Linked DNA regions of Homo sapiens. The protein of the gene in region 2 purifies or fractionates together with the protein of the main gene of each other region. This does not show direct contact. Each region holds a gene or a part of one and is shown on either strand. Other genes may lie near its edges. The genes, in order: TM9SF3 and CACFD1.

Region 1 (3,816 bases), on a different chromosome or scaffold from region 2:
CTTCAGCTGCCACTCAATTGCCTGTCACACACATTGTGCTGTAGTAGTACTTTTGCTTATACAATTTTTAGTGAACAAATATGTGCAGGCCTTAATTGGGATGAGGTGAAGGAGATAGAATAAAAGACCAATATAGCATTACAAGCCTTCCTAATCAATGACAAAATTCATTCAGTTCAGTATATACACAGAGATAAGCAGGAGAAACTTTATTCTGAGATTTGCATGAAAATGAGTTAACCTGGCTGTGATATCTCCAGTATACTGATATTTGGTATAGAACTCCTTTGAGCTATATATATCTTATTACAGTTGAAAGTGTTTTAAAAAGAAACTATTTTCAAAAGGATACTCAAATCAAATGCTTGTGGAATCCCAGAAGCTCTTCAGTAGGACCTGAGAGTTCTTTGGAACAGTTTGAAAACCATTCTTCTAGACCATGTAATTCAACATAGGAATGTTTTCTTCATTTTCTCTGTAATTCTTATTTGAAATTAGAGTTCTGGTAAACTAAGGGAAAAATATATAGGTCTTTATTACAATGTGTTAAGGTTTATGAGTCTTGTAGTTATTAAGAAAGTAAAAGCAAAAATTGAGATGGAATTTATCACTCCCCATATTTACGACATATGTATAGTTCATAACATAATGCTTAAACTATCTTAAAAACACCTGCTTATTTTTCACATTTCACGTATTTTAATATGAGCATAAATTCATATTATTCATAGGCCTAGGCCTAAACTGAAACGCAGATAAATTGAGTTCCTGAGTCTGATGTTTAAAATGGTATTATGGAGCTCTGTAATTCTCACATATTTATATTTGATCTGAAAAGGAGATGACAGTACCCTTTGGCTTGTTTAAAAACACATATACACACACAAAAGGATCTAATGAAGAATTTTTACTAATATTGGTTCAAAGAGATCTTTCCTTCTTGTGCAATCACTGTGGATTTCCTACCCCATACCTCTTCATTTCTCTCAATCAGTGTCTTCACATGTTTCATTCAGTTTTTCTCTCACTTTTACTTTCTATTTATTATAACCTAAAGTGTATAATTTAAAGACATCTTAGAGGTGATTCAATTCTACTCCATTTTACAGAAGTTCAGAGTGAAATGATCTTAATTAGATGGTTGGCCGGAAAAGAGCTGATTTTATAAAGAAAAAAAGTCACAAAAATAAATGTTTCTAATTGGCCACTTTGGTTCTAAAATCTCCGTATGGTCTTCTCTGTAATTTTAGACTTTGCACTACTAATGGGCAGGAAAATATTTGTACTATTTTACTAGTGACACATAGATAGCGATCTCCTTCTATTAGGATTCCAAGGTAGTGTAGGATAGAAAAGAGTGTGGGCTTTGAGGCTGGCAGATCTGAGTTGAAATTTTGGTCTGGCTCTCCACTAGCTATGCAATTATGGGAAGTTACTTATCCTTCTCTGAGTCTCCTTTCCTTCATTTGCAAAATAAGAAAATAACACATATAAAGCTCTTAGTGCATTTTATGAGCTCAAAAAGCATAGCCAGATAAGTAAGTTGGTTATAATAATGAAAGACAATGGATAAATATATTAAAAAAGCATGACAGCTGAGAGTGAAAGAGGAGAAAAAGGGATTGTGGCAGAGATAGTCTGGAAGAATAGGAAAGAATGGAAAACCAAATTGGATAAGAACTAGTTCAACTTGTATTCAGTTTAGTTCTAATACTTTAAAGCACACCTTTTTGTTTTCATTAGTGTACTTCTTGCACAATTTTAGCTCATATTGAACTTAAACATTTTCTTTTGTGGTCAAATTGTGTTTAAATTGTGTCTCTTTTATTTGTTTATATTAATGTTATTGTTCTCTGAGTAATCACACATTTTTATTTAATTTACAGGTGGCCGTTTGTTGCATCTGTTTTTTTGTTATTCTTCCTCTAAATCTTGTTGGTACAATACTTGGCCGAAATCTGTCAGGTCAGCCCAACTTTCCTTGTCGTGTCAATGCTGTGCCTCGTCCTATACCGGAGAAAAAATGGTAAAGAGAATGCTAAATCTTATGCGATTGTTTCACACAATATATAAGTTCTTAAGGCTGTTGTGTACATGTAACTTTAGAATTGGTATGTATTTATGATAATGACAATCTTAAGTTTGAGCCTAAGAAGTTCATTTTACTATTTCCTTTAACCTACATTGTTAAGAGTAATAATAAATTATACCCTTATTCCACTTTCTGAATATCGTGCCATTTAGAGTTAAGTCAAATGCTTTTCTATGGTGTAGAAGTGGGTGTGAACTAAAGCTGCAGTTTTACTAATCTGCAGGCCAAATCTGGCCTGCTCCCTGTTTTTATCTATAAAGTTTTGTTGGAACTCAGCCATGCCCATTTGTTTACATATTCTCTGTGGCTGCTTTTATAGTACAGCATCAGAGCTGGCAGATCAGTAATGTCAGAGATACTATCACATGCAGAACCTGAAATATTTACTATCTTTCCAGATATTTTAGTACTGTACAATTTAGTGTACATTTATTACATTCCCTATTTATAGGAATAGTTGTATAGTAAGTAGACTGCATTTTTATGATAACGGAGATATATATATATAAAGTCTCTGTCCCTAGATATTTTACCAGATTATAAATACAGCATATTCAGGTGCTTATACAAATAGGTGATAATTTTGCTCTGTCCCTTCTAGACATGGAGGCATGTAGACATTTATAGAAATGGAGGATGAATAAAATAGCCCCTATAGTTTGAATTGGCCATATTCTTTTCTTTCCTTAGATTGGTGCTTATGAGAGACTTTAGTTAGAACTTTTGTAGTTTATTATTTTATTTATTTATTTATTTTATTATTATTATTATTTTTGAGATGAGGTCTCACTCTGTGGCCCAGGCTGGAGTGCAGTGGTGTGATCTCGGCTCACTGCAAGCTCCACTTCCTGGATTCATGCCATTCTTCCGCCTCAGCCTCCCGAGTAACTGGGACTACAGGTGCCCGCCACCACGCCTGGCTAATTTTTTGTATTTTTAGTAGAGATGGGGTTTCACCGTGTTAGCCAGGATGGTCTCGATCTACTAACCTCGTGATCTGCCCACCTCGGTCTCCCAAAGTGCTGGGATTACAGGCGTAAGCCACCACGCCCAGCCTGTAGTTTATTTTTTAAAGTAATTTTTTTTTTGTAAATCAGTATGTTAGGACCCATCAATATCCTTACTGGGAAGGGTAAGTTTAAAGGAAAAGCATAGTCAGAAGTCACAAAAGTTCCTCTAAGTCACTAGGGCCAGTGAAGGAGAGGTCTGGTGAGAGCTTCCTCACCAGAGATGCATTGCAATTAGGTATAGGAAGGCTTGTGTGTGCCTCTGTTTTGGGGAGTATAATCCTGGGAACCTAAATCTGAATACTAGATCTGCCTCTCATTGACTGTGTCACCTTGGGCAGATCACTTTTAACCTCTGTGTCTTGGCTTCCTGTAAAGTAAGGAAAGAAGACTACATTAAATGATTTTTAAGTTTTTTTTTCAGCTCTCAAATTTTACCATTTTCTTCTCAGTTTTTTAGTTTGTTAATTTCATAGTTATTAGTTTAGGATCTTTTTTGTGCCAGGTATTGTGCTAGGCACTGGAAATACCTAGATGAATAGCTTCTGCCTGCCAGGGTTTATAATCTAGTGAGGTTTTTTATATATATGTACACACATGTATTTGGAATTGGACAGTTACAGTATAGCGTGGTAAGTACTGTGGTGGAGGTATTTTCAAGAGGCAGTGGAAGAATGGGAGAAGGACCCACCTCTTCCTGGGAGACTCAGCAAAGGT
Region 2 (3,816 bases):
CCCCTGCCACCCTGGGGCTCAGCTGGCCAGACTCCCAGGGGTGGGATGCTGCTGACCCAGGAGCCCACCAAGTCCCCAGGGCAGTACTGGGCAGGGCCCAGAAAACCCCACGCCCAGCCCACCAGCCTGCCACTCCTGGCCTCAGATGCCACTCCCGGCCTCAGATGCCACTCCCAGCCTCAGACGCAGATGGGCCCGAGAGGTGTTCCTGGGAAACAGTTCACTTAGCAAGACCCAGTACCTGCGCTCCAGAAGCTCAGCGCAGGCCCAGCCTGGGGTTGGCCCCAGATGGAATATCTTCCACACCCGCCCGCTTCTGCCAAACCCCACCTGGGCTAAGCCAGGCCCGACCAGGCACCTGCCCGATGGCTGAGAGCCAGCCTCACGGTCAGAGAGGCCAGCGGGCTGAGGCCACAGGGCAGAGGGAATATGGGGGTGCACATCCTGGGCACCAGCTCTCTGCATCCTCCCTGGGTAGGCCTGGCTCCGGACAGCCTGGCACCCAGGGCAGTGGGGACAGCTCTGTGTGGGGAGGTGACTGTGGCCTCTGCCCAGTTCTTAAAAGGCAGAAGCTCCCTGAGGGCAGGGCTTGGGCAGGCCAGCAGGAGCACCTGAGTGGGGCTGAGGTCAGACCCACTAACCCACTAATGGGGCTGGGCTGTGGCTGATGTTGACGGGGCCACACCAGGGAGAGGGTGGGCACCCTCGGTGCCAGGGAGAGCCTGCTCTCCCCACTTCCTTAGCACCAAGGCCAGCAGGGGCGGGGGGTGATGGGCAGAACCTAGGGGCCCCAGCAGGCCCAGGGAGGAGGGGCAGCCGAGGGGCCTTGAGGTGGCCTGTCCAAGGTTCCCAGGGCCAGCAGGGAGCATCCCCCACCCAGCTGTCCAGTCACTGCCAAGGCTGCAGTTCCAGGTACCGGGGTGCACCTTAGGAGCCCTGTGGGCTTCTTCAGAAGGCAGGGTGACAGTGGGCGCTGCACCCTAGGCAGCAGTGGGAGGTTGCTGGCAGCGGCAGGCTGTCCCAGGCCCTGGGGCTCCACCTGCTAAGAGAGCTGGGGGAGGTCCCTCTGCTCAGTGCCCAGGTGGCAGGGTCCCACTTGCCCCTCCCCTCAAGCCAGGACCAGCATCTCCAGGGGAAGCTGCTCCCAGGTCACAGCAGGTCACAGGCAGCCCTGTCTGTGGTGTGAGATCTGCAGACCCACCCAGCAGAGGAGTAGGGCTGGGTAGTGTCCACACAGCTGCTGCAGGCTCTGCCTCAAGTCCAGCAGCCCAGACCCTCACACCAGCAGCCAGTGGCTCCTGGCTTAAGCCAGTCTGGAGAAAGGAGCAGAGGACTCCAGGTGTAGGGACACGTGCAAAGGCCCCTCTCCAGGCTGTGCCTCAGCGTGGACAGTCCAGGCCTCACTTGGACCCACACAGAGCCAGAAGAGGGGACAGGGAGGGAGGGGCGCCCAGCCCTTCACAGCTCCCCCTCCAGGGTCTCCGCGAGCTTCTCCTCATCCGCCTGCTGCCTCTGCTGCTGGATCCTGGCATAGGAGATCGCATCGCCCCTGGGGAGAGAGAGAGGCAGCGTCACGTGGAGCACCAGCCCCATGCCCACAGCCCTCCTGACCACTGCCCGGTTCCTGCCCTGTGACCCAGGTGTGACCTGCAGGCATTCTGATTTCCCCAGAGACAACTGCTGGGGTGGCAAAGGCCTGTCTTGTCCCCTCTGAGAATGGCCCAGGCTCCCTGGGATGCTGGGCTGCGAAGGAACCAGCCTCAGTCTGGGCTCTGCAGGAGAGAGGGTGGCAACTGAGTACAATGCCCGGTGCAGACCTGGGAGGGGAAGGGGCTCCCACCAGCCATGTTTTTGCTATCCTTGCTGCAGGCCGTGACGGGGCAAGACTGGGCCACGCAGAAGTGTTGTAAGTCCTCTGTCTTCACCCACTCGAGCTGAGCCCTGGAGGCACCAATGAGTTACTGGGACCTCTGCCTCGGTCTCCACTAGCTAAAAGGGGCCACTCTCAGATCCTCCTCACTGAAGGACTTCGGGGGGCGGAGGGAGGAAGGCCCTGCCCAGGGGCTGGGCCTGGCAGACGCACTTTTTGCCCAGAGCAGAGAGTCCGTACAGCACCCCCGTAGCAAAGGCGATGGCGTTGCCCAGCAGCGTGGTCAGGGTCAGGCTGATGACGATGGGAACGACCGCCATCCTGGGGGGAAAGCAGAGGTCAAGGGGGCACTCCGGCCCCACAGCCACCACATCCTTCCCCGCTTCCCAGACTCGGCCCAGCATCCTTCCTAGACACCCAGGGCACAGGAAGGATCCCCAAAAATCAACTGAGACACAGCTTCAGAAAGTCCTTCATCAGCCCTGAACTTGTCTGTAAAACTGTTCCATTCTGGGAATAGGATCCAAAGCTTTCATCAGATTTTTGAAGGGGTCTGTGATCCCAAAAAGAGCTAAACAGTAACGAGATGGTCCAGTGCCCTCACTGTGAGAAAAACTGGCCAGAAAGAGCCTGTGACAGAGAATCTGGCTTCCCATCCAGGACCTACTAGCTTCGCGGGCAAGTTACTCGGAATCTCCACCGCGGAGAGGGGATCAAAGCTTGTCCGAGGTCAGTCATGTTACCTACACAATGCTGACCACCACAGGCACTAAATAAATGCTCTGAGTTATAGAGTAACACCAGCCACATCGCCACAAGTAAGGTCCCTGGAATTCAACCACATGGAACACAGGGTCTCATCATGGGAGGGCTGCAGGCTGCGGGGTCTGCGGGGTCGGCCCAGACCTTGCTGCAGTTTGGCGTCACCTGGTGGCAGGGTCCACTGGGGCTTAAGCGTCCCCGGGGCTGATTCTCCATCCTGGCTGGAATTTCCAGGCCAGCAGCAATTCCTGGGCTAACTGGGCCAGGAGGATACCTGCAGCCTGGAGGCCAGCGCTCTGTCCTGTCGCCTCCCTAGAGGAGGCTGCCTGTGCAGGAGGACAAGACTCGTGGCCAATTGCATTCTACCTCAGTTTCCATTCTTGTAGACATGTGGTTGTGAGATTTTTCTGTCGTTAAAAAATTTCAAAATGATAAAATAATAATAGAAATTACAAAGAAAAAGACCACGGCGGGGAACCTTCTGACAAAAACAAAATTAAAGGCAAACAAGAGCCTGGAAAAATAGTTGCAGGAAATACAACCAAGGATCATGAAATCTTTAATACAGAAAACACACTGAACTTGCTAAGCAGAACACTGAGGTTCCCACAGGTTAAAAAGTAAACTCGAAAATTTTCATATCAGAAAATGCAATGGAAACACGTGGGAAAATATTTTTCCCTCTTAGATAACAAATAGATAAATGCGAATGTGAAGTGGTGTGCAGCCCTGGGCTGGGGTGGGGGCGGGGGAGAGACTCAAGGGACCTCTTTGGAAAGCAACGTAGCCACGCATCTTAAAATATTTTTAATGATCAGAATCTTTGACCCAGTAATTCCACACCTGAAAATAGATATTAAGGAAATCATCATAAACACAGAAAAAGTTTTAGCAGACACATGTTTATCACACCTCGATTTACACCAGTTAAGAAATTAAGAACAGCATGATACATCCAGCTGAATGAATATTCCTGTATTGAAAGAATGTTATAAAGTCTGTGGTGATGTTCAAATGCTTATATCATTACTCTAAGTGAAAAAAGGCAGGATACAAACTTATTCATAATGGTTATAACTGTGTTAAAAGCAGGCTTTTAAAAAATGCCTGCAGACAGGAAGCACACACATCAGAAGATTAGCAGGCAGCGGGCTTCGAGTAACATTGTTCTATATTCCAAATTA

Evidence for each region.
Region 1: the proteins of CACFD1 (region 2) and TM9SF3 purify together in Homo sapiens (affinity purification with mass spectrometry; one large-scale study listed by BioGRID and IntAct). This does not show direct contact.

Annotation. Positions count from the first base shown.
Region 1 is NC_000010.11:96,531,261-96,535,076, reverse strand, and holds part of TM9SF3 (transmembrane 9 superfamily member 3 precursor), read left to right. Parts: intron 1-1,886; coding exon 1,887-2,026; intron 2,027-3,816.
Region 2 is NC_000009.12:133,466,296-133,470,111, reverse strand, and holds part of CACFD1 (calcium channel flower homolog), read right to left. Parts: exon of another isoform or gene 2,192-3,816; coding exon 2,084-2,191; exon of another isoform or gene 1,870-2,083; intron 1,773-1,869; coding exon of another isoform or gene 1,648-1,772; intron 1,641-1,647; exon of another isoform or gene 1,550-1,640; coding exon 1,459-1,549; coding exon of another isoform or gene 1,401-1,458; 3' UTR 1-1,400. UniProt on the Homo sapiens protein: Transmembrane protein which mediates synaptic endocytosis and fitness-based cell culling.